Homo sapiens: one gene and its partners. Changing the gene in region 5 together with the main gene of any one other region gives a genetic interaction. Each region holds a gene or a part of one and is shown on either strand. Other genes may lie near its edges.

What was found.
Region 1: changes in KEAP1 (region 5) and MRRF together harm fitness more than expected from each alone (negative genetic interaction), as found in Homo sapiens cells (one large-scale study listed by BioGRID).
Region 2: changes in KEAP1 (region 5) and MAPK14 together harm fitness more than expected from each alone (negative genetic interaction), as found in Homo sapiens cells (one large-scale study listed by BioGRID).
Region 3: changes in KEAP1 (region 5) and DYRK1A together harm fitness more than expected from each alone (negative genetic interaction), as found in Homo sapiens cells (one large-scale study listed by BioGRID).
Region 4: changes in KEAP1 (region 5) and VGLL3 together harm fitness more than expected from each alone (negative genetic interaction), as found in Homo sapiens cells (one large-scale study listed by BioGRID).
Region 6: changes in KEAP1 (region 5) and SHBG together harm fitness more than expected from each alone (negative genetic interaction), as found in Homo sapiens cells (one large-scale study listed by BioGRID).
Region 7: changes in KEAP1 (region 5) and RRAS2 together harm fitness more than expected from each alone (negative genetic interaction), as found in Homo sapiens cells (one large-scale study listed by BioGRID).

Annotation. Positions count from the first base shown.
Region 1 is NC_000009.12:122,278,382-122,281,881, forward strand, and holds part of MRRF (ribosome-recycling factor, mitochondrial isoform 1 precursor), read left to right. Parts: intron 1-2,061; coding exon 2,062-2,217; intron 2,218-3,500. UniProt on the Homo sapiens protein: Responsible for the disassembly of ribosomes from messenger RNA at the termination of mitochondrial protein biosynthesis. Acts in collaboration with GFM2. Promotes mitochondrial ribosome recycling by dissolution of intersubunit contacts.
Region 2 is NC_000006.12:36,076,308-36,079,807, reverse strand, and holds part of MAPK14 (mitogen-activated protein kinase 14), read right to left. Parts: intron 3,272-3,500; coding exon 3,200-3,271; intron 1,974-3,199; exon of another isoform or gene 1,944-1,973; intron 1-1,943. UniProt on the Homo sapiens protein: Serine/threonine kinase which acts as an essential component of the MAP kinase signal transduction pathway.
Region 3 is NC_000021.9:37,492,273-37,495,772, reverse strand, and holds part of DYRK1A (dual specificity tyrosine-phosphorylation-regulated kinase 1A), read right to left. Parts: intron 2,757-3,500; coding exon 2,610-2,756; intron 1-2,609. UniProt on the Homo sapiens protein: Dual-specificity kinase which possesses both serine/threonine and tyrosine kinase activities. Exhibits a substrate preference for proline at position P+1 and arginine at position P-3.
Region 4 is NC_000003.12:86,942,650-86,946,149, reverse strand, and holds part of VGLL3 (transcription cofactor vestigial-like protein 3), read left to right. Parts: 3' UTR 1-3,500. UniProt on the Homo sapiens protein: May act as a specific coactivator for the mammalian TEFs.
Region 5 is NC_000019.10:10,486,357-10,489,856, forward strand, and holds part of KEAP1 (kelch-like ECH-associated protein 1), read right to left. Parts: intron 3,498-3,500; coding exon 3,292-3,497; intron 3,013-3,291; coding exon 2,836-3,012; intron 463-2,835; coding exon 296-462; 3' UTR 1-295. UniProt on the Homo sapiens protein: Substrate-specific adapter of a BCR (BTB-CUL3-RBX1) E3 ubiquitin ligase complex that regulates the response to oxidative stress by targeting NFE2L2/NRF2 for ubiquitination.
Region 6 is NC_000017.11:7,628,875-7,632,934, reverse strand, and holds the start of SHBG (sex hormone-binding globulin isoform 1 precursor), read right to left. Parts: upstream 2,801-4,060; 5' UTR 2,763-2,800; coding exon 2,652-2,762; intron 2,520-2,651; coding exon 2,428-2,519; intron 2,256-2,427; coding exon 2,066-2,255; intron 1,736-2,065; coding exon 1,574-1,735; intron 1,347-1,573; coding exon 1,187-1,346; intron 1,057-1,186; coding exon 920-1,056; intron 184-919; coding exon 1-183. UniProt on the Homo sapiens protein: Functions as an androgen transport protein, but may also be involved in receptor mediated processes. Each dimer binds one molecule of steroid. Specific for 5-alpha-dihydrotestosterone, testosterone, and 17-beta-estradiol.
Region 7 is NC_000011.10:14,352,684-14,356,183, forward strand, and holds part of RRAS2 (ras-related protein R-Ras2), read right to left. Parts: intron 1-3,500. UniProt on the Homo sapiens protein: GTP-binding protein with GTPase activity, involved in the regulation of MAPK signaling pathway and thereby controlling multiple cellular processes. Regulates craniofacial development.

The DNA of each region.
Region 1 (3,500 bases), on a different chromosome or scaffold from region 5:
CCCTTTGCAGATAACTATTATTCTGACTTCTAGTAGCATGGATTCGTTTTCTCTTTTTTTTTACTTTTCAGTTTATATTCTCATATCTGGCCTTTGTACTGTACAGTTTTGTTTTCTTGTGTCTGGCCTCTGTGTTCAACATCATGTTTGTGAGACTCATTTAAATTTTTGTGTGTGTTCATTCTTTCTCATGGTTGCATAGTATTTCATTCATAAATATTACTATTCATTCCAATATTGACAGGCATATCTTTAAATTATTAATGTGCATATTTGGTTTTAAAAGTTCAAAGTTGAAGATATTATTTCAGTTGCTTCTGGCTTCTGTTGTTGCTCTTGGAAAGTGTTCTAAGTTTTAATCCTTCATGGATAATTTGTCTTTTCTCTTGGGCGTTTATAAAGATCTCTTTGTCCTTTGTTTTCTGCAGTCACAACATGTCTAGGTGTGAATTTACTTTTATTGTCCTATTTGAAACTTGTGTTTCTCAATCCGAAGATCCACATCTTTTTTTTTTTTCTTTGATCTGTCGCCCAGGCTGAAGTGCAGTGGCACTGATCTCGGCTCACTGCAACCTCCACCTCCCGGGTTCAAGCGATTCTCCTGCCCCAGCCTCCCGAGTAGCCGGGATTACAGGCACACGCCACCACGCCCAGCTAATTTTTGTAATTTTAGTAGAGATGGAGTTTCACCATTTTGGTCAGGCTGATCTTGAACTCCTGACCTCGTGATCTGCCTGCCTCGGCCCCACAAAGTGCTGGGATTATAGGCATGAGCCACTGCGCCCAGCCCCACATCTTCTATCAGTTCTGAAAAAAAACCTAAGCCATTGGTTTCAAAGCATAATGGTAACATGGGCAAATAAATGTTTTTAAAAATCACTCTGTTGCTTACCAGTTGTTTACTTTGGACGAAACATTTAAATGGCTTGTGCCTTAGATTTCTCATCTGTACCATGGGGACAATACTAATCACTATTCTTCCTACCTCAGAGAGCTATCTTGGATAGCAAGGAGGAGAATGTACTTGAAATTGCATTGCAAGTTATAATATGCCACCCAAATAGTACAGGATTGAGTTCACTGTAGATGTTCAACAAAATTTATTTAATGAATCTCAATAAATATTTGTTGAATGTTTAATGAATAAACAGTGTAAATATTGTTTAAAATTTTATTGTTTTTCTCCTTCCCCATTCCCTATAAAAGAAATGCAAGAATATTTGCATCACTCACAGAAATTATCTATGTATACACCTAGAATGTATATGAAAAATCACTACGATGATTTAGACATAAAATGAAATTATATTCAGCTCCCAATGCTGTTGATTTTCTAAAATATAAGCCATTGTCTCTACCATTGGTAGTGTTTAATGTCTGTAAACTACTATTGTTCCTTTTGTCTGTACTCTACCAGCCATCAGATATTGTGTGCATATCCTTGTCTTAGTGTCCATTTTTAATGAATTAATGTATTTCCTGTCTCTCTAATTAGATTTTGTGGAGATGGGCTAGTGAAAAGTTCATGGGTTTAAAATTAGGCAGATCTGGAACCAGATCTTGACTTTTCCATTTCCTGACCTGTGACATTAGGCAAATAGCTTTACCTTTCTCATCTTCTGTTTACTTTTCTGAAAAGTAAGGGATTAATTTAGTTATGGATTCCCTGCCATGTGTATAGTGTTCTTTTAGGTGTTTGAATGACTTAATTTGTATCCTTGTAGCAACCTTGCAATATAGATGTTACTATTCTTTTACAGGTAGGGAACTTGATACTCAGAAAGATAACTTGCCTAAGGTCATAAAGCTAGTATGCATTATAGCCAGACTTCTAACCTGGGGTGTCTGATTATAAAGTGTGCCCCCTCACTAGTATCTGAGAAGGTGTTTAGCACAGTTGACACTCAGTTAATATAGGCTCTTTTTTAGTGGAGCGATAATGTTTTATAATTTTCTAACACTTGACATTTTTCCCTGTACATAGTAGGTACTTCTTCACCAATTGCTTATTGGCTCTGTTTATGCTGCTGTTGTTTTATTCACTGAATGTTCACTTTTTAGCCAAAGGGAAAGGACAGTCCCAAACCAGAGTGAATATTAATGCTGCCTTGGTTGAGGATATAATCAACTTGGAAGAGGTGAATGAAGAAATGAAGTCTGTGATAGAAGCTCTCAAGGATAATTTCAATAAGACTCTCAATATAAGGACCTCACCAGGTTAGTGACTGAACCAATGTTCTGGGGAGGGATGTAATGGAAAGAGCATGGGTTTGGCAGAGTTGAGTTTTAGTCCCAGCTTTGCCATTTACTAACTGGTGGCCATGGGCAGTTACTTTGCTTTTCTGGTCCTCGGTTTTCTTGTTTGATTCTTAACTTACAGCTTTGGGGTGGTAGTTAAAATAAATGAGGTAACGTATTATGGTTCTAGCATAGTGCCTGGCGCATAGTTAACACTACATTTATTTATCCATGCTGCAAATTTTTGTCTACTTTGGAACTAGGCATTGTGCTAGTGCATAGTAGTAAACAAAAATAGGTATTGTCTTTGCTATCATGGAATTAGACTCTCAGAAAAATGAGATTTTTATTATGAATGTACTATAAACACATCTAGGTATTTAGTCTCATAGTAACTGACATCTTTGGTCCGATTTTTCCAATTTGTCCTGTTTGGCAGTTCTTATCCCTTACTGGGAACCAAATGAATACAGACCTGCCCACGTGAGGCATTTCTATACCCCTGAGCTTGACCAGGAAGATTCCGTTTGGGTTAATAACTTCCTGAAAGTGGCTTTTCTAAGTGGGAAATGTCAGAACTGTCTAGGCCAACTGTTTGCAGATGTGATGGAGAAGTGAGTTGTCAGCTGATGGTGCAAGCAGGCAGGAAAAATCCAGTTGCTGTTAAATTAGGCTTTTGCAAATTGTCATCATCCTAAAGTCAAACCTGGGACCCCTCTCTTAAGGTACCTGTGGGAGCTTGGGCTGCTTCTACTCACATCTTGATTAGGATAGTTCATAAGAAAACTAGAAATATTTCGCTCTTAAGAAAACCAAGTGAAAAATACAGCTCCACTTATAAACACTATCAGAAACATTACCGAGTTCAGAGATGAGATCCAGTGTGAAACTAGAAGACTGTTCCCGTCACTTGTCAACCTTTGGGCTGGGGCATTTCTGCCTTTGCTGACAGTAGAGCGTGCCATTCAATCTCTCTCAACTGTTTATTTTAAACTTGCTTATTATTTTAGGTATGAAACTGATAAAGTGCTCTGTCTCCCCTGTGTTTTCTGGCCTGTTAACATTCTGCAGCCGAAACCAGAGAGCAGTTTGAGAGGAGCTCAGGGAGAAATGTGATACTTAAAATTAGCCAGCAAGCTCCACTCTTGTTGAACTTAAAAAGATGATGGGCCTGGAAAGAGGTTGGGAGTGTAATTTGTTAAATGTTAACCTCTGAGAAAATGAGGGGCAGGAATGAGGCTGAGGGAGATTCTCGCTGGGGA
Region 2 (3,500 bases), on a different chromosome or scaffold from region 5:
TTAGCCACAGGCAGCTGGTGCCTATAACCACCACATTGGATAGCACAGATATAAAACATTTGCAATACCACAAAAGTTCTAGTACACAGTTCTTACTTACAAGCCCAAACCACCAATTCCAAATGCAAAATGATCAATAAATAAGGAAAACAGGGAGAAAACTGGACACTCAAACAATGAGTACCTTCTAGAGCAAGCTTTTCCAACCCAGGGCCTGCGGGCTGCACGTGGCCCAGGGCTTTGGATGCAGCCCATCACAAATTTGTAAACTTTCTGAAAACATTACGAGATTTTTTTTTTGCAATTTTTTTTAAGTTCATCGGCTATCATTAGTGTATTTTATGTGTGGCCCAGGACATTTCTTCTTCCAATGTGGCCCAGGGAAGCCAGAAGATTGGACACCCCTGTTCTAGAGGTTGCATTTAAATATCATAAATAAGTGACAGGTGCATGTCTTTCAGGCTGAAGGAAGAGGGTATGAGGCCAATACATTCTCCAAAGGTTTTTTAAAGAGGAGTTCTGCAAATTAGAAGAACAGCGAAGAACAGAATATTGGAAAAGAAATTGTGGCCTATGTGACAGGTAGCTTTGGATTATATTCTCTGGGTCTTGGTTTCCCCATCTATTAAAAACAGGGGATTCAACTAGATGTTTTCTAATTAACTTTCTGATCTCATTGGTACTTTTCAAAAAAAATGAATAGAGATTACTAACATCTTCAAGACCAGCCAAGATTAAACTAAAATTCAACTGGGTTAAACTCTAGTTGTACTCAACACTAGCTGCAAACTAGAAGACTGTGCTTTGACCCATGACAACAAAATGGAGTCTTTGGGGTGGTCCCCAGGCATCTAGAGTTTTTAAAAGCTCTGCAAAGTGATTCTGACACACTATGAGGGTTAAGAACCACTATGCTGGAACACAAGTGACCGTATAGTTCAGGCAGGAAAAGATAATGGGAAACATTTTCCTCTTGTCAGGCAATCAAAGCTGTATCTACACAGATGGCAACTTACAAGAGAAAGGTTAAGTATATTACAAATAAAAATCCTTTGAATTCGACTTTTACAATCCAGGAGAGAACATCTGTCTGAAAAAGAGCCAAGTAGAATAAAATAAATAACTAAAACCAAAATTTTGAAATGAATTCTCATGTATTAAAAAATGAATCCCTTATTAAAAAGTTTAAACACTAGGTTGTTTATCTAAAGCTCACAGAAGAAAAAGACCTAAGCACAAAGGGAAGATTTCCTACAGGCAGAAAGTTAGCATTTAAAAGGGTCAGGGAATAGACAGGTGTCTGTGAGACAGGACCACAAAGGTACAAGACTCACACTGCTTCGAAAACTTTCTAACACTAGTCTGCCAAGGAGTTCCATCCTTTCCTACCTATCACAGAATTAAAAACAAAACAAAACATTAATGATTCATAGGTAGACAATTAAGTGAGAAGGTGAAGGGGTAATCTGTTTTGCAAGGCCATTACTGAACATGATGGCTAACATTTACTGGCAGGCTCGTCTCAGTACTTTCCAGTTATTTTCTGGCTGAATTCTTACGACAACCTTGTGAGTATGTATGATTATTATCATTTTACGGTTAAGGAAACTGAGAGAAATAGAGGTTAGGAAACTTACTCAAAGTTACATAGCTGGAAATAAAAGAGCTAAGATCTAAATCCAGGAAATCTGGCTCCAGAGCATGTGCTTAACCTGTATGTTATACTGCCTTTCCCTCTCTGCCACCTTGTGTGTCTACACCGGCATGGAGGTCTGTGACTGACTAAATGGTAGCTGGAGATACAGACACAAGAAGAGGAAGGGGAGCAGGGAACAGAGAATAGCATCAGGACAGCAGCTACTCTAGAGGACAAAGCAAGGATGGGACTCTGAGATATGTACCTGAGGAAAGGGGGAAGTATGAATTTTCCCTAATTCTCTTACCTTGGACTGTAATATATATATACCAAATTTCTGAGAAACAGATATAAGGTGAATGAAACAAAGGACAAAGGAGAAACACCAGGTATTAAACTAATTTAAAATCCAGAGGTAGGGAGTAATAAGGTAAGCTAAATACAGGGAGACTGAACTCTGTTATCAATCCTAATATTCAGAGAGAAAGAAACAGCTTTACCTGAGAAATAGAGGTTTTTTCAGTTCATAATGAAAGTACATTCTCTCTAGCAGAAGATAGTTAGAACACGTGGGTAGATATCATGAACATCATAGCCATTACAGAAGTATATCCCAAACTGTAAGCAAGTGAATTGACATTCTGGTTTATAAACTCAATTAGTTTATTTAGGTAAGGGACTAAAATGGCTTTTAGATCTCTAGGCATAATAGATCAGAGGTAGCATGTCTAATATTGCCTAACCAAAACCACCTGAAGGCTAGTTAACTCAATTCTATTAAAAAAAGAAAAAATCCCCAAAACTAATTCTAGACATATATTTTAACAATCTTTCTCACCTAAACATCTTCCATAAGTAGAACTGATGAGAGTTCCAACAGACCACATTTTTCATGACATTAATACTAAACCATGAAACAAGCATACCGCAGATAGGAAAGGAGCTAAAATAAAGGGGCTATAATAAACCATAAACTAGACAGTAAGTCTTGGAGTAAATTAGGGTTTGGCTGCAATCTGGGAAAAAGTTGTGCTGGAAAAACAAAAGTACATTACATGGTAAGCTTTTCACTTCTTGCTTTTACTATTTGTTGTCAAACAACAAACATAACAAGTAAGCAGTATATCACTGCAGGTACCAAACATAGCCCTTTTAATACATAAACATAACAGCAAGATGCCCTTCATTTATAAATGGGCATCTTGTGCTCATTAAGTGTTTATACAAGAAGACTAAAACTGTCACTGGGATCTGGAGTTTCTCATGAGTATGCTCAGGTCTCAGAACTGCTGTGGGATGATTAATAAGGGACTGTTGCAAAAAGAAGACAGACTTGATGGGTTTTTCAACTTATGAGGAATTTTTCCAACTCACAAAAGTAAACTGAAGCCTCTTTCTTGGCAAGGCAAGCTACTCAGTTTGAAGAAAGACCTCATAATGCATTATCTAGACTATAAAAGCAAAATACTGAGAGTCTTCCCTAGAGATAAGTAAAAGGAGTATACACCCATGGACACTGGAATACAGATAAGAAACAAGAATCCAAAACTTTTTAAAGGATACGGTCTGTACCAGGAAACAATGTTCTTCCAGTCAACAGCTCGGCCATTATGCATCCCACTGACCAAATATCAACTGGCAAAATTAAAAAGAAGTAAAAGTATATGCAATGTCACTGTTACAATTCTTGGCAACAAATGAAACCGTAACTAGGGGTGAAATATTCAAATTACTATTTAAGACATCTGAGGCTCAACAATCATACTCATTTTTACAGAAATAAATAGCTTACTAAGATCTTCACCTGACTAAAGGGCTGTTCAAAGGTGGGGTAAGTCAAAACACACTTAAGAGAAATAAGCTG
Region 3 (3,500 bases), on a different chromosome or scaffold from region 5:
TCACCCAGGCTGGAGTACAGTGGTGCACTCAGAGCTCACTGCAGCCTTGACCTCCTCCCAGGCTCAAGTGATCCTCTCACCTCAGCTTCCTGAGTAGCTGGGACTACAGGCATGTACCACCATGCCCGGCTATTTGTTTTTTAGATGGAGTCTCGCTCTGTCACCCAAGCTGAAGTGCGGTGGCGCAATCTCGGCTCACTGCAACCTCCACCTCCCAGGTTCAGGCAATTCTCCTGCCTCAGCCTCCTGAGTAACTGGGACTACAGGCATATTTTTCAGTAGAGACAGGGTTTCACCATGTTGGTCAGACTGGTCTTAAACTCTTGACCTCAAATGATCTGTCCACCTTGGCCTCCCAAAGTGCTGGGATTACAGGTGTGAGCCACCGTGCCCGGCCCCATGCCCAGCTAATTTTTAAAAGTTTTTGTGGAGATGGGGTTTTACCATGTTGCCTATGCTAGTCTCAAACTCCTGGGATAAAGCAATCCTCCCACCTTGACCTCCCAAAGTGCTGGGATTACAGGCGTGAGGTACGGCACCCAACCCAGTTTTCAGAGCATGTTAAATAACCACACACACACACACACACACACACACACACACACACACACACACACACAAAATCCCAGAGGCTTAATAAAGTATGGACCTAATAAAGTACTTTTTTAAGTACTTTAAATGAGTGTGCCTATTATATGCTAGGAACCATATTCAGTGGTAGAAAATAATAAACAAAACATAAAAATTCCTGCCAAAAAGAAGTTTATGTTATAGTGGGAAGACAGCAAATACATATACACACAAACACACAATTTTTTTTTTTTTTTAATGGAGTCTTGTTCTGTCTCCCAAGCTAGAGGGCAGTGGCGTGATCTCGGCTCACTGCAAGCTCTGCCTCCTGGGTTCAAGCCATTCTCCTGCCTCAGCCTCCCAAGTAACTGGGATTACAGGCACGCAACACCACACTAGGCTAATTTTTCTATTTTTAGTAGAGACGGGGTTTCACCATATTGGCAGGGCCAGTCTCGAACTCCTGACCTCAAGTGATCTGCCTGCTTCAGCCTCCCAAAGTGCTGCGACTACAGGTGTGAGCCACTGCGCCCGGCATTATCAATAAATAATTAAATACATGATGTCAGATGCTGGCTAAGAACTATGGGATGAGGAGAAGGGGTACTGCAACCGTAAGTGGGGTATATGGTTTCACCGAGAATGTGACATCAGAGCAAACACTAACATCAGCAAAGGAGTATCTCAGAAAAGAGCATTTTAGGCACAGGAAGGAAGAAATACAAAGGGCTATGGGCCTGTAGCTGGCGTTTTCAAGGGACCACAGAGTGAGGGGAGAAGGAGAGACCAGGTGGTGGTGAGAGAACTGGCATCAGAGGAAGTAGGAATCTGTGGGTTACTCAAAGGACCTCGGCCTTTACAATGAGTAACATGGCAAAGTTTTTTTAATATTGTTTAAGCCCAAGAAAGATACTAATTTACACAGTAAGATTTATACTAAAAAAAAAAACAAACTATGACAGTTACTATAAAAGAGTAGCTCACCAGTTCAAGTTGAAATGAATTAAAAGGGGCTGGGCACAGTGGCTCACGCCTGTAATCTCAGCACTTTGGGAGGCTGAGACGGGCAGACCACTTGAGGTCAGGAGTTCGAGAGCAGCCTGGCCAACATGGTGAAACATCAACTCTAGTAAAAATCCAAATATTAGCCAGGCATAGTGGCGCTTGCCTGTAATTCCAGCTACTCGGGAGCCAAGATTGCCCCACTATACTCCAGCCTGAGTGACAGAGCAAGACTCCATCTCCGGGAAAAAAAAAAAAAAAAAAAAAGAAGAATTAAAAGGAAGGATGGAAGAAACAAGTTTCTGACACCACCTATTAACAGCTGTGTAATCCGGTACAAGTCATTAATGCCTTTGGCCTTTCTCTTCTCATTTATAAATAGACTGATCAAGACGTGCAAATTGTCAATTTTTCTTTTAAAAAACAAACAAAACCCCACAGGTGTAGTTTTTAAAACAATGAAAGTCTAATTTCTCTGACTGCAGGGAAGTTAAGGCCTGTCCCTGCCCTCCCATTCACTGCCTCTGACCTTGAAAAATCTTCCAGAACACAGACTGAAAACCTGTAGACTTCAGAACTGCACACAGTCTCTGTAGCCCTACAAGTCTATAATCTCGTTTACTCTACATTATTCAGACTGAGTATCCATCAGTCCTACTGATCATTACTCTTCAACTCCAAATCATAATCTCAAAATTTAGAGTGATGTTTGTATCACTCTTCAGGATGGCCTTCATTCTTTATCATCTTTAAGCTTTCTGTATTGTATTTAAAACCTGTAAAATGTATGCCAAAATACTTAACACTTTCTAACTGTTCTCCTTCATGAGTAGATTAAAATATCCTACTCCTATCTCATAATTCTAAACTTACATGACAACTGACAAATATGAAAAATAGGTATATTCAAACTGACCTCACATTTGAATGATTAAGTAGACATCTTTGCCTAAAAACAACTTTTAAATTACACTGTCACAGATGAAAGACAAAAAGAAATTATGAAAACAGAATTTGTAAAGCAATACATCATTTACCTCATTGGCACCACTGAACAGAGGTTCTCCAGTGTGCATTTCAACCAAAATACACCCGAGGGACCACATATCAATGGCAAGGTCATAAGGCATTCCCAGTAGCACCTCTGGAGACCGATAAAAGCGACTCTGAATATACTGGTATATCTGAAATATATTTCAAAATAGTATTACTTCAATTGCTTAAAACTGCAGTCAGCATTGGATTAAAAACATTGATCTGATATTAACAGAAAAGAATTGGCTAATTCCTGAATTAGGGTTCCATTGATTAACTTCAACATTAGACTACGAATACGGCTTAAAGAACTAAACATTTTGAGGGATTGGTTAATCTGACTGTGAAATGCATAATACGTAAAGATTCAAGCCCTTTCATTTAGTCTAATCCTACCTAGTCATCATGATATTTCTTAAAACAATTATGCCTCACTAGGAAAAAAAAAACACTATTGAAAGCAATGTATTTCCCTAATAATTATTTCTTCCTACTATGGCTGGCACTTAGTTTACCACTAACTTTACAACTAAATAGTATTTAAATTAACCCAAACAATGTATTTCTCAGCGTTAAAAGTCAAGTAACTTCAATATAATATAATTTAAAATTCAGATATTTGTACTCTTGCTGTCTCACAGATAAATCCCAGAAACACTGCCACATAAAGATTCAATTGAGAGCTGTCTCTGACCAATAGCTTCTTCTCTCATCTTCTCTCTCTACCTCCATCCAAGACTTCTTATAGAAAGACAATCCTGAAATGGACTATTTTCAATGAAGTAATGTTAGGATGTCTTCAGAGACCAATTTGTTTCACTTATTAAAAGTGGAAAAGAAATAAAATCCTAACTAAATTTCCTAACACCCAAACCATGCAGCCAGAAAGCTCA
Region 4 (3,500 bases), on a different chromosome or scaffold from region 5:
TCTAGCCCATCCAAATTTGATAAATGGAACCAGAGGTTATATACAACTACAAGGAAAAAAATGCATTTAACCATGCCACCTATGAGTGCCAGTGACTTATTTTACTTGTTTTTAATTATTCATTCATGGCAATTTAAAAAGTCATATTTTAAGTGGGATTTGTTTTTCCTGAAGGGCATTTGAAGGAACAATATCTGGGAAGGTACTAGAGAAATTACAAAGCCCGAGCTCTTTCTTATAATGCCACCTATCCCTGTAAGCTAAACAAACAAACAAACAAACAAACAAACAGTTCTATATATAATAGTTTCAACACAGAACTTAACAAGTCTCTTTTTTTGTTTGTTTAAATCTGGCTTTACTTGATTTAATTCCTTTTTAGAAAGAAATTTAGGGCAAAATAAAGTGTATATTAGGATTTAAATTTATGCCACAATTTAAAAATAAAACCAGAGGTTATATACAATTTAAATTGGGCTAAAAATTAAAAATTTGAGGATTTAACTTGATATAGCTCTCAGGATCTAAATAAAGTTTAAATTATCATTAAGACACTGCTAGGAGAAGATTAAGATTATGAAAGTAACAGTTATTGATACTGCTGGACTTCAAAGGCAAAGTTCATTTCTTCCATTAACTGCTTCCAGAGATGTCATGTAAAAAAGTTAGTGTATTAGAGAAGTTTTTTAGCTTTATAAAGAGGTTTTTTCAAATTTCTCCCATTTTTCTCTCCACCCACATAAAATAGTATGTTCAGTGAAATGCCACTTTCTATCTTTAATTGTTCGTATCATATATGCGAACTTTTTAGACATGAACATGACATGTTCAGCTAGGCAGAGTTCTCATAGATAATTTTCAAATATTTTCCTTGGCTGTAATTTATGTATTCATTTATATCCTATCCGTCTTTTGAGCTTCAGATCTATATACTCTTTTGTACTCTCATCACTCCGCACTTTGCTGTTTCTTACCTAGACTCTCTTTTACACAATATGCACATTTTTACCATTGTGGGGTCCAAATTTAAGATACCTTCCACTCACTAATAATATGAACTTATATTTCCTGGGAGTAGCCAGGTTAAATTTTCTATACTTTGGTCCATAATTTGATTTGATATGATTGTTTCATTTATAATTTGCCCAAATACATGGAGCACAAAATTTAGTGAATTTATAAATCTGGATTTGCCTTGTGTCCTTCTGAGTTTTCAAAGGCAAGTATTCAACAGTCCCTGTGTGATGACTGACAGGGTTATTTGCCTCATCCACATCCACCTTCGGAATACATTAACTTCCTTTGTAATTTATTTGAAAGTAGTGTTAAACTCATTCAGATCATTCAGTTGGATTTTCCCAATGAAGAGGAAAAGGAAAGTAGTTATTCCTAGCTCCATTTCTTATTTTCCACCAAATTTAATTGAAGGGCATTAATTAGATGTCTTCACCCTGAATTTAGACTTTGCTCTGTGTTCTCCCGGTAACTGTCAGACAAAAAGTTTATTGGCTCTGAGGAACTGAGAAATGTTGGGAACCTGGTTTCTGCTGTACACAGGAAAGATTTGTAAGTGAGCTCTCTCTTTGAAAACAGGACCCAGGCTGGGCACAGCAGCTCATGCCTGTAATCCTAGTATTATAGGAGGCAGAGGCTCGGGAGGATTGCTTGAGCCCAGGAGTTCAAGATCAGCCTAGGCAACATAGGGAGACCCTATCCCTACAAAAAATTTCTGAAAAATTACCTGGGCATTGTGGGGCACACCTGTTGTCCCAGCTACTCTGGAGGCTGAGTCCGGAGGAACGTTTGAGCCTGGGAGTTTGAGTTTGCAGCTTGCAGTGAGCTGTGATTGCACCACTGTACTCCAGCTTGGGCAACAGAGCAAGATCCTGTCTCAAAAGGAAAAAGAAAACAGGACCTAGGTGTTTGGGGTACACTGCCACCCAGGGAGTGGATCAAAAATATACATAGAAAGAGAATGAGCATGTCTCTATAATTGTCTTCTAGGACCATATTGCTGTTAGAAGTCCTAAAAGAGGATGGGTTGTAATTTAGCATAATATTCTGAATTCATTCCAAGTTTAAAATCCTGTCATTCTCTGGCTCTTCTTTTTTCACATCAAAATGATGCTGTTGGACTTAGAGGCTTCCGAACTGTTTTATTGAGGGCTACTATCTGCCTCCACAATTTTATTAAAACCACTCCACCTTTAGACAAAGGTGACTTTTGTCTGATTTTACAAATCAGATTTTATTCAAGCTTTCTAAATATCTGTGAAGTAGACCCTAGAAAATTGTCTCGTTTATTTTAAATAGAATCTATGCTTCCACCAATAAACCATCGGGAGCTAAGAAACAACATAATGTTGACAAATCAGGAACCTAACAGATTATTTTGTCTCTCATTATTAATTTGAAAGAGCCTCTAAACTTTTGAGAAATCAATGTGTCTTCTTAAGAAAGTTAAGCACCCTCTCTTAACTTTCCCCTCTATTTGCTCTCCTTTTTCTTTCTTCTTAAGAGTATTTATATTATTTTGTTAAGCAAAAATGGCTAAGATTGCTCTAAAATTTGCAAAATGAGGAGTGGATTGCAAATAATTGAGGGATTTATTTCTTTAACTTTATAAGACTTTAAAAAAAAAACCCAAATTCTAAGCACTGACATGAAAGTTGCCTTTGAGAAGCTTGTTATTCATTATACAAAAAGTATTTGCCCATTCCTATTCTAAGATTTGCAGAATATGTCACCCTATCTAGCTTTTGAGTTTGCTATCTGGTTTAATGTTGTATTTATAATTTAAAGTGGAAATCAGAAACTGTTTCAAGAACCTGTATTCTATTCCTTACTGAGTGTCCCTTCTTTAAATAGTGTTTGCTGAATTAAGCCGATGGGGGCAGTGGCGTTAAGTGGTGGAAAAAGGAAAGTATATATGTTAGAGTTTTGAATGAGGGATAAATAGAAAGCAGAATGAATTAATGGAAAAGAACTCGGCTGTTAGGCCATTCTCTAAATTCTAGTTTAGCCAAAAGTTTATGTGTGGTTTGGGGCTTCATTTATTTATCTCATGAGTAAAATGGAATAATACCTAACAGGCAGGCTCTGGAAGTTGGAAATCACATACACACACACACACACACAGACACACACACACACGATCAATCATGTAGCTCATATTAGATGTTCAATAAATAACAGCTACTACAGATGCCTATCAGTTGAGTAAGTAGTTCATTAAATTGAGCTCCCAAAGGTCTCTTCTCTTCACATCCATATCCGTTTCTGCAGCAATCAAATAGATACATGATTGTTTTTCTGTAAGAAATTACTGCAAAGAGAATCTTTTTCTCCTACTAACTGTTCCTTCTACCTGGTATAGGAGATAAATGTACGTTTCTTAATTAGCTGACTTTTTAGTATGTCATTTCTGAAGGAAAAATAAATTAACCTTAAAGTGGCATGTAGGTCCAATTCAGTTTTCCTACATGTTCCAAAATTTTATT
Region 5 (3,500 bases):
ACCCAGGCCTATTACCCGGCCAGAGGGTTTGGGGGCCTCTCTCCTGGAAGCCTGCTCTTTCCACACCCCCTTTCCCAGCCAGGCTGTCTTGGACACTCCCGGGGCTCCGCTGAGGGGCACATGATTCCCGCTTTGGACTTCTTTTGAGATGTCATTTTAACACTGAGGCATCCTGGCCTCCCTTCCCGGAAGATGGGTTATTTGCAGTGCTGTCTTTTCTTTTAGTCCCGGTTTTTGTACAAAAACAATGATACTCCCCATTGGACTGTATTTTTGCCCAAGAAACAAAAGTGCCTCAACAGGTACAGTTCTGCTGGTCAATCTGCTTCCGGCAGGGCTCCATGGTGACAGCCACGCCCACCCCACTCCGGCCCGATGTCATTCGGGTCACCTCGCTCCAGGTGTCTGTATCTGGGTCGTAACACTCCACACTGTCCAGGAACGTGTGACCATCATAGCCTCCTGCGGGAAGAACAGAAGGGATGGTCACCACCTGTCACACCACATCCAAGAGCAGGGGACAGAAAGAGAGAGATGCAGCTGTGAGATGCAAAAGCAGGCCGGGCGTGGTGGCTCACGCCTATAATCCTAGCACTTTGCAGGGCTGAGGCAGGAGGATTGCTTGAGGCCAGGAGTTCGAAGCCAGCCTGGGCAACATAGCAAAACCTTAGTCTCTTACTAAAAAAAAAAAAAAAAAAAAAAAATGGCCAGGCTTGGTAGCTCACGCCTATAATCCCAGCACTTTGGGAGACTGAGGTGGGTGGATCACTTGAGTCCAGGAGTTTGAGACCAGCCTGGGCAACATGGTGAAGCCCCATCTCTACAAAAAAACATAAAAATTTAGCCAGGCTTGGTGGTGCGCGCCTGTAGTCCTAGCTATTAGGGAGGCTGAGGTGGGGAGGATCAGTTGAGTCTGGGAGGCAGAGGTTGCAGTGAGCAGAGGCTGCACCACTGTACTCTAGCCTAGGCAACAGAGTGAGACCCTATCTCAAAATAAATAAATAAAAATAGGAAAATAGGCCACTCGCGGTGGCTCATGCCTGCAATCCCAGCACTTTGGGAGGCCGAGGCGGGCAGATCACCTGAGATCAGGAGTTCGAGGCCAGCCTCGCCAACAGAGTGAAACCCTGTATCTACTAAAAATACAAAATTAGATGCGATTGGTGATGCACGCCTGTAATCTCAGCTACCTGGGAGACTGAGGTAGGAGAATCGCTTGAACCCGGGAGGCGGAGGTTGCAGTGAGCTGAGATTGTGCCACTGCACTCCAGCCTGGTGACAGAGCAAGACTCCACCTCAAAATAAATAAATAAATAAATAAACAAAAAATAAAAAAATAAAAATAAAATAAAATAAAGGCCGGGCACAGTGGCTCATGCCTGTAATCCCAGGACTTTCGGAGGCTGAGGCAGGTGGATCACCTGAGGTCAGGAGTTCAAGACCAGCCTGGCTAACATTGTGAAACCCCGTCTCTACTAAAAATCAAAATTGGCCGGGCATGGTGGCTCACACCTGTAATCCCATCCCTCTGGGAGGCCGAGGCGGGCAGATCACCTGAGGTCAGGAGTTCGAGACCAGCCTGACCAACATGGAGAAAACCCTTCTCTACTAAAAATACAAAATTAGCCGGGCGTGGTGGCGCATGCCTGTAACCTCAGCTACTCGGGAGGCTGAGGGAGGAAAATCGCTTGAACCTGCCAGGTGGAGGTTGCAGTGAGCCGAGATCGAGCCATTGCACTCCAGCATGGGCAACGAAAGTGAAACTCCATCTCAAAAAAAAATTAGCTAGGCGTGGTGGCACGTGCCTGTATTCCCAGCTACTCAGGAGGCTGAGACAGGAGAATCACTTGAACCTGGGAAGCAGAGGTTGCAGTGAGCCAAGATTGCGCCATTGCACTCCAGCCTGGGCAACATGAGCAAAACTCTGTCTCAAAAAAATAAAATAAAATAAAATAAAAATAAACAAAAACATTAAGCTGGGCGCGGTGGCTCACACCTGTAATCCCAGCACTTTGGGAGGCTGAGGTGGGCAGATCACCTGAGGTCAGGCGTTCAAGACCAGCCTGACCAACATGGTGAAACCCCATCTCTACTAAAATACAAAAATTAGCTGGGCATAGTGGCAGGCGCCTGTAATCTCAGCTACTTGGGAGGCTGATGGGGGAGAATCACTTGAAACCAGGAGGCGGAGGTTGCAGTGAGCTGAGATCGTGCCATTGCACTCCAGCCTGGCAACAGACTGAGACTCTGTCTCAAAAAACAAAACAAAACAAAACAAAACAAAAAACAAAACAGGCCGGGCGCGGTGGCTCATGCCTCTAATCCTAGCACTTTGGGAGGCCGAGGCAGGTGGATCACGAGGTCAGGAGTTCGAGACCATCCTGGCCAACATGGTGAAACCCTGTCTCTACTAAAATACAAAAAATTAGCCTGGTGTGGTGGCATGTGCCTGTAGTCGCAGCTACTCAGGAGGCTGAGACAGGAGAATCGCTTGAACCCAGGAGGTGGAGGTTGCAGTGAGCTGAGATCATGCCATTGCACTCCAGCCTGGGCAACACTGTGAGACACCATCTCAAAAGAAAAAAAACATTAGCCGGGTGTGGTGGTGCGCGCCTGTGGTCCCTGCTACTTGGGAGGCTGAGGCAGGAGGATGGCTGGAGCCCAGGCTGTTGAGGCTCCAGCGAGCTGTGATCACACCACTGCACTCCAGCTGGGCAACAGAGCGAGACCTTGTTTCTAAAAAAAAAAAAAAAAAAAAAAAAAAGGAAAGCAAAAGCAAAAGCAGTCCACAAAAGATGGGCTAGTCAGGACTCTTCCCCGCCCCCAGGGCCTCACCAAGGACGTAGATTCTCCCCTGGTGGACAGTGATCCCCAGGGCACTTCGCCGGTGCTTCATGGGGGCTACGAAAGTCCACGTCTCTGTTTCCACATCGTAGCGCTCCACGCTGTTCAGCTGGTCCTGACCATCATAGCCCCCAGCAGCATAGATACAGTTGTGCAGGACGCAGACGCCTAAAGGGCACCATGCAGAGAAGGTGACTCTGGGGGTCTGGCTTTGGGAACCCCAGCCATCACCTCCTTGAGGGAGACCTTTCCTCTCTCCTCTCCCTTCTCACCCTCAGAAATGAAGCGGGGAGAGAGAGAAGCTTGGACTCTATCAGAATCCAGGGCTTCTGTGGTTACCCCAGCATGAGGGTTGCAACAGGGGGTCTCTCCCAGGCCTGGCTCAGTTTCACCCCAGGATGGTAGGGGGTGTTCCTGGGTGCTCCCCTCCCTACCGTCCCCACCCACCTGCCCCGCTTCGGATGGTGTTCATTGCTGTGATCATTCGCCACTCGTTCCTCTCTGGGTAGTAACACTCAGCTGAATTAAGGCGGTTTGTCCCGTCAAAGCCCCCCACGGCATAAAGGAGACGATTGAGGACAGCCACGCCCACCCCGATCCTTCGTGTCAGCATTGGGGCCACCAAGTGCCACTCATCCCGCTCTGGCTCATACCTG
Region 6 (4,060 bases), on a different chromosome or scaffold from region 5:
CCCTTGAGGCTTGGCCCAGAGGTTAAGGAGGGGAGCCAGGCCTAAGGGAGGCAGGGCAAGGGCCTTCATCTTCGACCCTTGGCTCAAGACCACCCTGGACATACTCAGCTTCAGCTGAAGAGGGAGTCCCAAGACCAGGGGCAGATCCAGCCCTGGCCCCGACCCAGAAGACAACACCACCTTCTGCAGAGTGTGTGGGAAAGGGACGGTAGAGAGAGAGGGAAGAATGAGCCGGGCCTACTGCCTGTGGCCTCACCCCTAGCTGCCTTAATTCTGCCTCTTCGCTATGCCTCCACCTACTGGCCATTCTCACCACTTAAATCCTGCCCCAATTTTTTTTGGCTTGACCCTTTTTGAAACCACACCTGCCCCAAGTAAATATGCAGTCTAAGTCAAAACTGTTTGCTTGCTGTGGGGAGCTTCAAGATATGTCCCTCGCCCCTACCACCCACCTGAGTGCCATCCATAAGCCTTATTTTTATTTTTATTTTTTTGAGACAGGGTCTCACTGTGGCCCAGGTCAGAGTGCAGTGGCACATCATAGCTCACTGCAGCTTCAAACTCCTGGGCTCAAGTGAACCTCCTGCCTCAGGCTCCTAAATAGCTAGGGCAGCAGACATGTGCTACCATGCCTGGCTAATTTTTTTTTTTTTTTAGACAGAGGTCTCTGCTATGTTGCCCAGGCTGGTGTCAAACTCCTGGCCTCAAGTGATCCTCTGGTCTTGGCCTCCAGCACCTGGGATTACAGGCAAGCACCACCATGCCTGGCTAATTATTAATGAAAAACAATTCTGTGGAGCCAGTCTTGTTATGTTCCCTGGGCTGGAAACCTTCCTAATATTGACATGTTGGACTCCCCTCTTCCCTCATTGCTCCAGGCTCCACTGAATACAGGCAATGCCCCACTGTCCCCCTTTACTTGATCTTGGAGGTGGAGACTGAGCCAAGATGGGTTCTCTGGTGTCCCAAGAGCAAGGAGGTGGCCTGAGCCTGCTGCCTGCTTGAGTCCCAGGTCCAAAGAGAAGGCCCAGGGCTCTGCATGAGGCTGGGGAATGTCTGTGGGGAGAAATGATTATCCTGAGGCCTCAAAGCTGGGGTCTCAAGGAGGAAAGGGGCCAGTGGTAGAGGGGGACAGAGGCAGGCTGAGCTGGCCAGGGTGGGAAAAATAGACTCCGAGGAAATCTACCTCGGAGATTGAATTCTGCCTGAGTCCCTGGAGGGAGAAATATCCCGGGATTTGATTCTACATCACAGCTTCTGAGGCTAGTGGGGGCAGATGCTGAGATCTCGGCCTGTTTGTCCAGCCAGGAATCCCGGCGCAGGCAGCCATCCAGGGCAGGAACCAGCTGGAGTGTGACAGAGATAAGATACGGGGATGTAGAAATCAGGGCATCGGAGCCGCAGTCCCGACCTCCCTGCCCTCAGTTGACTCCCCTCTGAGCATTTGGCCTCCCCCTTGCAGCTCTCAACCCTTCCCTTCTCCCTAAAAGTGTGGACTTAGATTCCCACGGCCAGCCACCCAGCAGTGCTTTACCAAGTCTTGGCTAGGGTTCCACCCCTGGGGTGTAGTTACCGGCAACCGAAGGTTGGAAGCGGGGAAGAGCAGCCCCCCAAGCGCAATCCTCATGATGGGATGGCGTTTGCTGGTCAGGGGCCCAGAGACCTGTCTCAGGCGCAGCACCTCCTCCCCATCCACCTCCAGCAGCACAGAGTCCCCCTCCATCTTGACTTCCACCTGCAGGAAGGTGGGAAGCAAAATCAGAGGCCCCTGGGATCTGTTTCTGCCACCTTCCTGTGAGGCAGCCTAGTACTATAGTGGAAAGAACATGCCTTAAAGAAGCAGCTAGCATCCTTGGCCTTGGGTCACTCAGCTCTTGTCACTTATATACTGACTGAGCCTTAGAATTCCCATCAGAAAAGATGGGGCCAAGAATAGCTACTTTGTGGGGGTTCGTGTGGATTAAACGAGATGACAGTGGTAGAGGGATGCCCAATAACTTGGTTTTGTTCCCTTTCCTCAGACCAGCTCCAGACATCCCTCCCCTGAGGACCAGAGCTAGCTTACCTGGTGCCATCTCCCATCATCCAGCCGTGGTCCAGCACCCACCGTAAGCTGGGCCCAGTGATTGTGCAGTTGGATCTCAGGCCTGCCGTCTCGAAGTCCCAGCATAAACCAGTCATCCTTAGGGTTGGTATCCCCATAAAAAATCACTCCCTCTGGGTCCCAGGTTCGAACCTCAAAGGAGGAGGAGGTTCTGGAAGGACACAGAAGGAAAGATTGTGTATGTCATGTGTCCTTTGAGAACCAGTGTGGGTTTGGGGGAGATGGTGTTCACAGATAAGGAAAGGAAGACAGGGAAAAGAGAAGAGCTGATGGAGAGAGGGCAGAACCAGGGGACTGGGTCAAGGGCTAGGCCAACCCCATACTTTGTGATCTTGGTGAGGTCAAAGGTCATGACAGCGATAGGCTCTTGTCCTGGGCCATTGCTGAGGTGGACAGCCGGAGGGTCGTGGGCACTCTATCAGAAAGAGAAAACAAACAAAGCTGAGTAGGGACATGTCAGAGACAGACAGAGGGAGAGGCCCTGCTACAGGGCCAGAGGAGAGAAGGGAAGACTGCATGAGCTGAGTGCCCTGTCCCGCTCCTGCACCTGGGTGGGGAGAACAGGTCTCAGGGCCCATCCCTGGCGGGTGTGACGCAGTAGTAGCAACAGCAGCAACAGCAGCAGGCGCGAGGTAGCCAGTGGGCCTCTGCTCTCCATAATCAGCCACTGTCCACTCGGCGGCTCAGACAACTCTTGGGAGAATGTGTAGAGGCAGGCAGCCTTGCGTGTGGGCGGTGGAGGGTTAAAGGTTGCCCGGGGAGGAGGGGGTAAAGGAAACAGGGGCACTGACCCTTGACCCCTGCCCAGGGGCCCAGTCACAAGACTCAGCTATCACCCCTCTGGGGATCAATGGGGTGAAGGACAGAGTCCCCTCCACTATCATCCTCCACTGCCGAGAAAGTTTCTGAACTGGGAGAGGATATTCCATCTCCCCTCTCCTCCTCTAGGGCCTGATCTAGGTCCTCCAAGATTTCTGTCCACTCGGGGAGCCTGCATTCACAGGCCTGAGGTCTAGAAACAGTCCTCCCCTGCGTCCCAAGTAGCATCCTGTATCAGGACTAGAAATGAGATAATGGAATCCTAAATTTCTAGCTGAGTGACCTTGGGCAAGTCACTTCACCTCTGTGCTTCAGTGTCCTTGTCTGTAAAATGAGGAAAATAATACTTTACGGGGTGACTGTGAAAGAGGGTTCATTGAGAAAATGCAGGCACAGTGCCTGGCATCTGGTCTGAACTCCTCCCCCAGTCTTTTCCCAGGCCTCTGAGGCCTGTCTCCCAAGAAGGTATTGTCTGTGTGTATGATTCAGTGAATATTAAGAAGGGACCTGCCCCCCGCCTCTCAGTTATCTTCCCTTATCCATTTATTACAGGGCCTAAACAGTCTAGCAGTAGAAATCACCCACTCCCTGACCCATTTTATTTTATTTTATTTTATTTTATTTTATTTTATTTTAGACAGAGTCTTGCTCTATCACCCAGGCTGGAGTGCAGTGGCGTGATCTCGGCTCACTGCTGCCTCTGCCTCTCGAGTTCAAGCGATCCTCCTGTCTCAGCCTCCTTAGTAGTTGGGACTACAGGTGCACGCACCACCACGCCCAGCAAATTTTTTTGTGTTTTTAGTAGAGACGGGGATTTCACCACGTTGCCCAGGCTGATCTCGAACCTCTGACCTGAAATGATCCGCCCACCTCAGCCTCCCAAAGTACCTGGATTACAGGCATTAGCCACAAGGCCCGACCCTCCCTGACGCATTTTATTTTATTTATTTATTTTGAGATGGAGTTTCGCTTTTGTTGCCCAGGCTGGAGTGCAATGGCACGATCTCGGCTCACTGTAACCTCCACCTCCCAGGTTCAAGCGATTCTCCTGTCTCAGCCTCCCGAGTAGCTGGGAGTAAAGGCATGCGCCACCACACCTGTCTAATTTTTGTATTTTTAGTAGAGACGGGGTTTCAC
Region 7 (3,500 bases), on a different chromosome or scaffold from region 5:
GCATCACAAAATCTGTTTCAATTTTAAAGACCAACTTTAATTTGAAAAAGAAACTTTTAAAATATATATATATAGAGAGAGAGAGAGAGAGAGAGAGGGAGAGAGAGAGAGAGAGACATTTTTTTTTTTTGAGATATAGTCTTGCTGTGTTGCCCAGGCTGGAGTGCAGTGGCATGATCTCCGCCCACTACAACCCTCCGACTCCCAGGTTCAAGCAGTTCTCCTGCCTCAGCTCCTGAGTAGTAGCTGGGATTGCAGGCGCCCGCCACCACACCCAGCTAATTTTTGTATTTTTAGTAGAGACAGGGTTTCACCATGTTGGCCACGCTGGTCTCAAACTCCTGACTTCAAGTGATCCGCCCGCCTCAGCCTCTCAAAGTGCTGGGATTACAGGCATGAGCCACCGTGCCCAGCTAAAATTTTTTTTAATAGCTTTAAGAAAGTCTCTTCCCACTCTACTCCCCCAATTTAAAGTTATCAATTTATTTTCCTAACTGAATGGAGCAGACTATTTTTATTCAAAGCTTAGGAAAGACCATGATATTTCAGCAATCAGATGAATTAAAATCCCATCCCGGTAAGCAGTAGCCTGTTATCTACCAAGGGAAAGCAGTATTCTTGACCTACTCAACAAAAGTGCTCCCACTCGGCCAGGCATGGTGCAGGCCCAGGCGGGTGGATCACCTGAGGTCAGGAGTTCATGACCACCCTGGCCAACATGGTGAAACTCCACCTCTACTAAAAATACAAAATTAGCTGAGTGTTGTGGCACATGCCTGTCTATAATCCCAGCTACTTGGGAGGCTGAGGCTGGAGAATCGCTTGAACCTAGGATGTGGAGGCTGCAGATAGCCAAGATCACGCCATTGCACCACTGCACTCTAGCCTGAACAAGAGCGAAACTTCGTCTCAAAAAAAAAAAAAAAGTGTCCCCACTCAATTCCTACAACTTCCTTATCCCAAAACAGGGGTACGCATGCACACAAACACACACACACAGAGACAGACACAAAGAGAAAGAGAATGAACAAAACAAGAATAAGACGTAAGTTAAGAAACTGCAGGTTAAAATTTCCTTCTTCTCCAAAGGCAGTCATCCTCTATAAGAAAATGTTCTTCCTTGGGTGTACAGAAATTTTATCTAGGAATTGCCTGCAGGACCATTTCAACTGTTCCCCAAACAAGAAAACCTTTAGTATGGTACCACTTTGGGGGCAGGTGTCTTATTTCTCAATGCTAACAATTCATTTGTACATTAATGTTAAAAAAGTTTAAACACTAAAAATGTCTAGTTTCAAAATAATAGATAAAAGTTAACAGTTTAAGTAGTTTCTAATTGCAGGAAAAATCTTCGAGATGTAGCAATGGAACAGCAAATTGGGAATTTAAACTCACAACCTTCACATGTGGATCAATTAACTATTAACACAAATCTCCTGAAATCTCTTCTCGGCTCTCTGCCCCAGGAAAAAGCAATGAAAAAGTACTCAGCAAAAGACAAACTTTTAAAAAGCAATGCTGGGTCCAGACTAACAGGTCATAGGACTGACTGAAATTCAAGACGTGAGAAATCAGCTAACCCCTACCTACCTCAAAATCTGGCAAATTGTTGAATAAAAAGTTAATATGCTAAAAAAAATATATAAACCTCCCTGTAAATTTTTAAAACATATATGGCCTTTTCTCAGAGTTACCAGATAAAGCACTAACCCCAAAATTAAATGCTTACCTCATTATTTCTTAAAATTAAATCCAAACTGACAAAAAGAAATTTCTCCAACTCAAAACGGAATCCACATTCATCACCTGAATACCACACAGAAGTAAGGAGGGGAGTATAGGGTTGAGCCAGGAAGGAGAGGGCAATGAAGACTTAAAGTAATAGACCAGATTATGTGTCAAAGAAAAATGAAAAAATTACAAATTTTGTTTTGGAGGAACACCAAGATACAGAACTAACAGCAGCAAATAAAACCAAGTAACAATTTCTTTTTTTTTTTTTTTTTTTTTGAGACAAGAGTCTCACTCTGCTGCCCAGGCTGGAGTGCAGTGGCGCAACCTTGACTCACTGCGACCTCCACCTCCCAGGTTCAAGTGATTCTCTTGACTCAGCCTCCCGAGTAACTGGGATTACAAGCACGCACCAACACGCCCGGCTAATTTTTGTATTTTTAGTAGAGGTGGGGTTTCACCATGTTGGCCAGACTGGTCTCAAACTCCTGACCTCAAGTGATCCACCCACCTTGGCCTCCCAAAATGCTGGGATTACAGGTGTGAGCCACCACGCCCAGCCAACAATTCTTATTTGCTTACTCTGTAGATGGCACGGTGCTGGATGATTTACCTGCATTATTTTATTTACTCCAAAAACCCTAAGGGTACTATTATTTAATGTTATTCTCCCTTCTCAAATGGTGAAACTTGGGTTTAGAGAACCTAAGAAACTTGACTAAACACACAGCTAGTTAAATGAATAAAAAAAAAAAAACACTCCTAGAATTTCAAAAGTGCAGAAATTTGTTCAACCAAACCCAACATTTCATGGGGAAGAAAGAGAAGCTCAGTCGAGATAAAGGCAGATTAAGAAACTACTCAAAGTCACCTGGGTAGAGAGACATAGACCCCACACACCCAGCAGTCTCTCCTAACCACTCTGTACCATCCTGAAGTCATTTCCTACCTAGAGTTTACTTAACATTTAGGTGTTCTACCTACCAACAGAACTTTACACATTTTTCAAAGAAATATGAGCAACAGAAAGGAGGAGGTAATGTACACACACATATTCATTAAATAACATAATACTTTACATTTTATCATGGCTACTTTATGATTTGTTATATTTATTTTTAAAAAGGAAAAGGTATCTCAATTTAATTATCTTAGTTCCCTAATTTTGCAACTCTTCATATGAACAGAAGGTAACAACTAAATCTAAGTCAAAGAAAGTTAGGGTAAAAGGCATTGTTTTTAAATTCTCCGTTCCCAATTTTATATTTTTTTCTGCTCAAAATCACATAGTAGAAAATATATATACTGAAAATTGTAAAAACAGTCTGGTGTTTCAGGAGTCTTAAAAAAGTAAGTCCAATTTGTGCCATTCTAATCTCCTACCAAGAGAACTGACTTCTGCTTATTAAAATGATTAGTCTGCTGTGTTCTCTCCCTCCAGTTACTACTGCTAAACAATCATGGTGGAATGAATTTTAACATTCCAGGAGTCAGGCAATGAATAGCTACCCTATTAAGTGTAAATATAAAAAAATCGCTTTAGCTCCATAATCTAAAATTAATATAAAAATGTATGCAGCTTTACTACAGACTGTACTAGACACTGTTCTAAGCCCTTGACATGTTAACTCATTTAATTTCACAGCTATATGTGGTCCACCATATTTCCCCAGTTTACAGATGGGGAAAACTAAGGTACAGAGAAGTTAAGTAACCTGCCTAAAATTACACATGCAGCAAGTGGTAGAGCTGAGACTGCATCCAGGTGG